2 linked regions of the Homo sapiens genome follow. The protein of the gene in region 2 interacts with the protein of the main gene of each other region in a pairwise test. Each region holds a gene or a part of one and is shown on either strand. Other genes may lie near its edges.

Region 1 (3,250 bases), on a different chromosome or scaffold from region 2:
ATCACCTGAGGTCAGGAGTTTGAGACCATCCTGGCCAACATGGTGAAACCCCGTCTCTACTAAAAATGCAAAAATTAGCTGGGCGTGGTGGCAGGTGCCTGTAATCCCAGCTACTCGGGAGCCTGAGTTGGGAGAATCGCCTGAACCCCAGAGGCAGAGGTTGCAGTGAGCTGAGATTGCGCCATTGTGCTCTAGCCTGGGTGACAAGGGCGAAACTCTGTCTCAAAAAAAAATAAAAAAATAAAAAAGTGATCTATATTGGCTGGGTATGGTGGGTCACGCCTGTAATCCCAGCACCATGGGAGGTTGAGGCGGGCAGATGGCTTGAGGCCAGGAGTTTGAGATCAGCCTGGCCAACATGGCGAAACCCTGTCTCTACTAAAAATACAAAAATTGGCTAGGTGTGACGGCGTGCGCTTGTAATCCCAACTACTTGGGATGCTAAGGCACGAGAATACCTCGAACCCAAGCAGTGGCAGTTGCAGTGAGCTAAAACCACACCACTCCACTCCCGCCTGGGTGACACAGCGAGACTCTTGTCTCAAAAAAGAAGAAAAAAACATGATTTATATCATTAACAACTATTGCACTTGCATTGTTAACACTGCCCGGCAAAGTGTCAGCTTTCTGCTCTGTCTGAATCATTTGAATATTAATGGACTATATGCTCTACAAGATGGTCTGGGTATATATATTTTTTTAAAATTAGTATTTCTATGGGGCTTTGTAATCCTATTTTCAAGTAAACTATTTTACAAATACTAAACATGTGCGTCTTTTTTTTTGAGTTGGGGTCTCAACTCACCCTGTTGTCCAAATTGGAGTGTAGTGGTACCAACATGGCTCACTGCAGCCTCAAACTCCTGGCCTCCAGCAATCCTTTGGTCTGAAAGCCCCAAAGGACTGGCATTTGGGGGTATGCGCAACAGTGCCCAGCCCAGCGTATGTTACATTTAAACATATGTTTTTAGGAAAACTTTCTATGAATACATAAATTTGATACTGGGCTTATTTCTTTTGCTTCTTTTTAACATTTTCTCACTTTTTTTTTTTTTTTGAGACGGAGTCTCGCTCTGTCACCCAGGCTGGAGTGCAGTGGTGCGATCTCGGCTCACTGCAAGCTCTGCCTCCCAGATTCAAGCAATTCTCCTGCCTCAGCCTCCCAAGTAGCTGGGACTACAGGCATGTGCCACCACGCCCAGCTAATTTTTTTGTATTTTTAGTAGAGACAGGGTTTCACCATATTGGCCGGGCTGGTCTCGAACTCCTGACCTTGGGATTCACCCACCTCGACCTCCCAAAGTGCTGGGATTACAGGCGTGAGCCACTGTACCCGGCCTATTTTCTCACATTTTAAGATTTTCTAGAGGCATTGCCTTGTCTTGCGAGAGAAAATTACCTTAGATTTCTCCTGGGATTTTTGTACTCATCTTCAATGTTCTGAACTTTCCATGTTTTTCCTAAAACACAGACCCGGAGAAAACACAGATCCAGAATTAGTATGAATTTATTTAAAAATCATTAGATTCTGTATTCATGGTACATGGTAGCCATGCCTGATTTATTCATCAAAGTATTTTTTGTCCATGTTCCAAATCAATGAACAGCATTGATGAGCTAGAAGCATTTGTTCTCTAATTCACTGGGAAGTAATATTGTCATTCTTACCTACAGAGGTCAGGTTCTTGAAGGTTTCCTGCATCACATCCCTGTAGAGATTCTTCTGGGAAGGATCCAGCAAAGCCCACTCCTCCTGGGTGAAGCTGACAGCCACATCCTCAAAGGCCACTGAATCCTGAAACATCTCACATATATAAAAGAGGACAGGTAAGACTAACAGCCCTGGAGGCCTATACTTTATTCCTAAGAAGTTCTCATGATACTGTGGACTCCAAACATTTATCCCATGACTTGGTCATCACACCTCTTACTTTCTGTCTATACTCACGTCCTCCCACAAACCAACCCTTTTTTTGTTAAGAGAGAGGGTCTTTGGCCAGTCGCGGTGGCTCACGCCTGTAATCCCAGCACTTTGGGAGGCTGAGGCAGGCAGATCACTTGAGGTCAGGAGTTTGAGACCAGCCTGGCCAACATGGAGAAACCCGTCCCTACTAAAAATATAAAAATCAGCCAGGCGTGGTGGTGGGTGCCTGTAGTCCCAGCTACTCGGGAGGCTGAGGTAGGAGAATTACTTGAACCCAGGAGGTAGAGGTTACAGTGGGCCGAGATCGCGTCACTGCACTCCGGCCTGGGCGACAAAGCAATACTCCATCTCAAAAAAATAATAATAAAATAAATAGGCCAGGCGCAGTGGCTCATGCCTATAATCCCAGCACTTTGGGAGGCCAAGGTGGGCGGATCACCTGAGGTCGGGAGTTCGAAACCAGCCTGACCAACATGGAGAAACCCTGTCTCTATTAAAAAAAAAAATACACAATTAGCTGGGCATGTTGGCACATGCCTGTAATCCCAGCTACTTGGGAGGCTGAGGCAGGAGAATCACTTGAACCCGGGAGGCAGAGATTGCGGTGAGCTGAGATTGCACCATTGCACTCCAGCCTGGGCAACAAGAGTGAAACTCCGTCTCGAAAAAATAAAATAAAATAAAATAAATAAAATCTATACTAATCAAGAGAAAATGGTATTAACAGATGGAAAGATAGACTAATGGAAAACAGCAGATTCTGAAAATAGTGAAACCACGACAAAGCAGGTATCACCAGCCAATTATGCAAGTGGTCCTCACTTACCAGAAGGAACAGGGACAGATGGTTACCTACAGGAGAACAAACAATCTTTGAAGCCCATCATCTCCATATGAATTAATTCTAGAGTTGCCTGTTACCGTGACTTCTTATGTTACCTTACCATGCATTTTCATTATGGGTTTCACTTTCTTATAACAGAAGAAACCCGTACTCAAGCCGTGTGTAGTGGCTCATGCCTGTAATCCCAGCACTTTGGGAGGCCAAGGCAGGCCAATCACTTCAGGTGAGGAGTTCAAGACCAGTCTGGCCAACATGGTGAAACTCCCTCTCTACTAAAAAACACAAAAATTAGCCGGGTGTGTGCGTGCCTGTAATCCCAGCTACTCGGGAGGCTGAGGCAGGAGAATCGCTTGAACTCGGGAAGCGGCGGTTGCAGTGAGCTGAGAGAGCGCCACTTCACTCCAGCCTGGGCGACAGAAAGAGACTGTCTCAGAAAAAAAAAAAAAAAAGAAGAAGAAGAAAGCTGCACTTGACCTCAACAG
Region 2 (3,500 bases):
ATCTCTACTAAAAATACAAAAATTGGCCAGGAGTGGTGGCTTGCGCCTGTAGTCCCAGCTACTTGGGGGGCTGAGGCATGAGAATTGCTTGATCCTGGGAAGCGGAGGTTGCAGTGAGCCAGGGCTACACCACTGCACTCCAGCCTGGGCGACAGAGACCTTGTCTCCAAAAAAAAAAAAAAAAAGGATTAACAGAAATTTGGATGCAAATTCCTTTTTGTTTTTAAACAGGAAGCTCTACACATAGAAATGAAAATCTTTATGAAAAATTCATTAATGAAATCTAGACAATCTAACTGGTGTTACATGGAGATTATATAGAGATACACACATATCAGAGATATATTTATGATACACAGGATATGGGGTTACATTTTTCTTTTAAACATCCTTCTTGAGCTATCATTAGGAAAAAATAAACTTAGAAGTGCATTATCCAAAACAAGATAAAAATTCTAATCTTAAGCTCTTGCAAAGCTCCCCAGGAATTAAGTCCTATACTACAGTACTTCAGAGTTTTTATTGTTTTAATAAAATAATAAAGAGAGAGGAGAAGAGTAGCATATAGTAAGTCCCAAACCTACGTGGCCCAGGTTATTTAACCCAGAATGCACATATACTTTGGGAAATGCTTCCATTAACAGTGAAATAAGTGGGTGGACATGATCTAGCAGTCTTTAAACTTTTCCTACTAGATGGGACAGTTAGCTTTGACCAAATCACTTCTGGAGGAAGCAAAGCCTTCTTGAGAAGTAGTATTTCATTATTAAACTGGATATAATGTATTAACAATAACAACAACAACAACAAAATCACACGTGGATGTACTTTCAGGGAAAAAAAAAATCACAAAGATGTCTAATATATTGTGTATTAACATTTTTTAAAATGCCAAGACTTCTGACTCAAAATAAAAGCTCCATGATGCTTTCTGATGCTCAGCCATTAGAAAAAACATAAAACATTCTAATATAACATTTTAACAAGATATACAAAGGCCAGGAGGTAGTAGACTTCTGTAACTTATCTTACTAGAATGGGTCTAAGATTATGAATAACATTCTCAAGTATATTTGCAGAAGAGCATTCACTAAATGCACAGTATAAAGTTTTGCTTCTGAAAGACAGATTCCAAGAAGTTGCCACATGCCAGTTGGTATCTACCTGTCTTATTTCCAAAGTTTGACTTTAATTTTACAGGATGGGGTTAAAATATATACATGAATACCTTAGAAAACAGCATTGCTTAATTATATATCACTTGCAAAATATTGTGAATCTCAAACCGTGTGGCTCTTGCCACACATCATCTAATTGAAAAGCATCATTTCACAGATGAAACAGAGGCCCAAAAGAGGCTATCTTGTCCCACTGCTATATAATTATAGGTTTCTTTGATTAAAGTCAATTTTTTTTAAGAGATGGGTTCTCATTATGTTGCCCAGGCTAGACTTGAACTCCCAAGCTAAAATAATCCTGCCTCAGCCTCCAAATACCTGGGACTACAGGAATGCACCACCATGTCCAGCTAAAATTCAATTTTCCCATTTCACGTCCTCTCTTGACAATACTGTACTGTTTGTTGTCTCCTTTTCACCCTGCATCTTACCTTCCCCTCATCTCTGTCCCACCATAACCACCCTTGTCAGTGCCTACTCTTTCCCTTCTTCTTTCATCTTTTTCTTCAGGTTCCATTTTCCTGTTATGTCCCTTTCCATTAATCACTTTTTCTCTTCCCTCAGCTTAGGAGCATTCTTACATATGCATCTCAGCAGGGAGCACCTGTAATCACAGCTACCTGGGAGGTTGAGGCTGGAGGCTCACTTGAGGCCAGGAGTTCAAGACCAACCTGGAAACACAGCGAGACTCTGACTCTTAAAAAAAAAAAAAAAAAACTTGCCTGGCATGGTGGCATGCACCCTTAGGTCCAACTACTTGGTGGGAGGCTAAGGCAAGAAGATCATTTGAGCCTAGAGTTTCAGGCTGCAGTCTGCAGTGAGCTATGATCCGGACACTGCACTCCAGCCTAGGCGACAGCAAGATCCCATCTCTTAAATACCAAAAAAAAGTACATCTAGCAGTATTTAATTACATTTAATTTTACAAGTAAGTATAATTATTTGCAAATACTTCAGTTATATAGATCAGAATTTAAGGTTACCTTTTTTACTATTCATTTTAAACCAATATAATTGAGCACAAACATGTACTGTATTAATTTGAAGAAGCTTCTAGTTGTTAGCTAGAAATAGGTATCAGGTCAAATGTTATTACTTGAGACACTGATTCTACTCATGTTTTTTATCTGTATTTTAGCTACAATATAACCACAAGGGATTAACCAAACAATCAAATATAAAAACACATCATTTTAACAAAGATAAAGGCAAGTTTTAAAGCTAAGGTAAGCTGAACAGCTCTTTTCTTCACTCTATGACTTATTTAGCTATTCATAATCACACAATTGGAACATCAAAATATTTTCTGTCAATGTATGATTCGATTAAATGAAGCAGGGAAAAAAGAAAATCTCACCCCCAATGGTACTCTCTTGAAATTCATGAAATTGGCCTTTCACAAAACGAAGCACTAGGCTTGATTTGCCAACAGCGGACTCTCCCAGAAGTACTAGTTTGAACTGGCATATTTTATTTCCCGTATTTGGCCCGTTGGGTCTTGTTGCGCCTCGACTAGCCATGTCCAAATTTGAAATAAGTCCCTAATTTCAGACTCTTCAATGAACTTCCAGAATTCAAGGGGCCAATATTCTTCTTTCTGGAGGTAAAGAAACCTGTAAAGAAACAATTATGAATTAAATATACAAATCAGTAAAGCAAATTTACTATTAATCACTTTAAATATTGCCTATAGCATGATTATCTTAAACTCTACTAGACCTTCAATGCCCTTTAGATTATGTCACTATCTTTTAAAGGAAATTCAAAGGTATAGGATGTGAGTCCAAAATTACTTTTTTTTTTAAAGGCTAACCTCAAAGCTTCAAGTTTGTGCCAGGCAGTGCTTTAAGTACTTAACTTCTCAACAATCCTATAAAATGAGATATTATTACAATCCTTATAAATGAGGAAACAAGCACAGAGATGTTAAGAAGCTTAATTGAGGTCACACAGTTATTGTCACAGAAGTGACAGAGCCGAGTTTCAAACCCAGGCAACCTGAGAGATGACTCGAGTTCAAGTTCTGTAGCCAGGCTACTTGGATTAACATTGTTTTGAGAAAAATTATGTTATTAATAAATGGGAAACTTTTAGAACAGATCCTAAAATTTAGTATTATTTGAAGTTTTCTGTTAAACGATGCATTTTTCATTTAATTAATGGTAATTTTGGACAACAAATATTTTCAGTCTCCCAGGTTTGTGTGCCTAACGGCAGACTTAAAACTGTTTCCTCATCTGCTCAAGCACACCATACACAGAAATGCTAACAGTTGTTCTCCATGTGGTGATTATTACTGACTTATTTACTTACAATAATTGT

The links. The genes of interacting proteins can lie anywhere in the genome.
Region 1: the proteins of RAB5A (region 2) and ZNF20 interact in binary tests that used the Homo sapiens proteins (3 or more experiments, as listed by UniProt).

The regions. Positions count from the first base shown.
Region 1 is NC_000019.10:12,134,101-12,137,350, forward strand, and holds part of ZNF20 (zinc finger protein 20), read right to left. Parts: intron 1,805-3,250; coding exon 1,669-1,804; intron 1,461-1,668; coding exon 1,400-1,460; intron 1-1,399. UniProt on the Homo sapiens protein: May be involved in transcriptional regulation.
Region 2 is NC_000003.12:19,950,097-19,953,596, reverse strand, and holds part of RAB5A (ras-related protein Rab-5A), read right to left. Parts: intron 2,792-3,500; 5' UTR 2,699-2,791; coding exon 2,536-2,698; intron 1-2,535. UniProt on the Homo sapiens protein: The small GTPases Rab are key regulators of intracellular membrane trafficking, from the formation of transport vesicles to their fusion with membranes.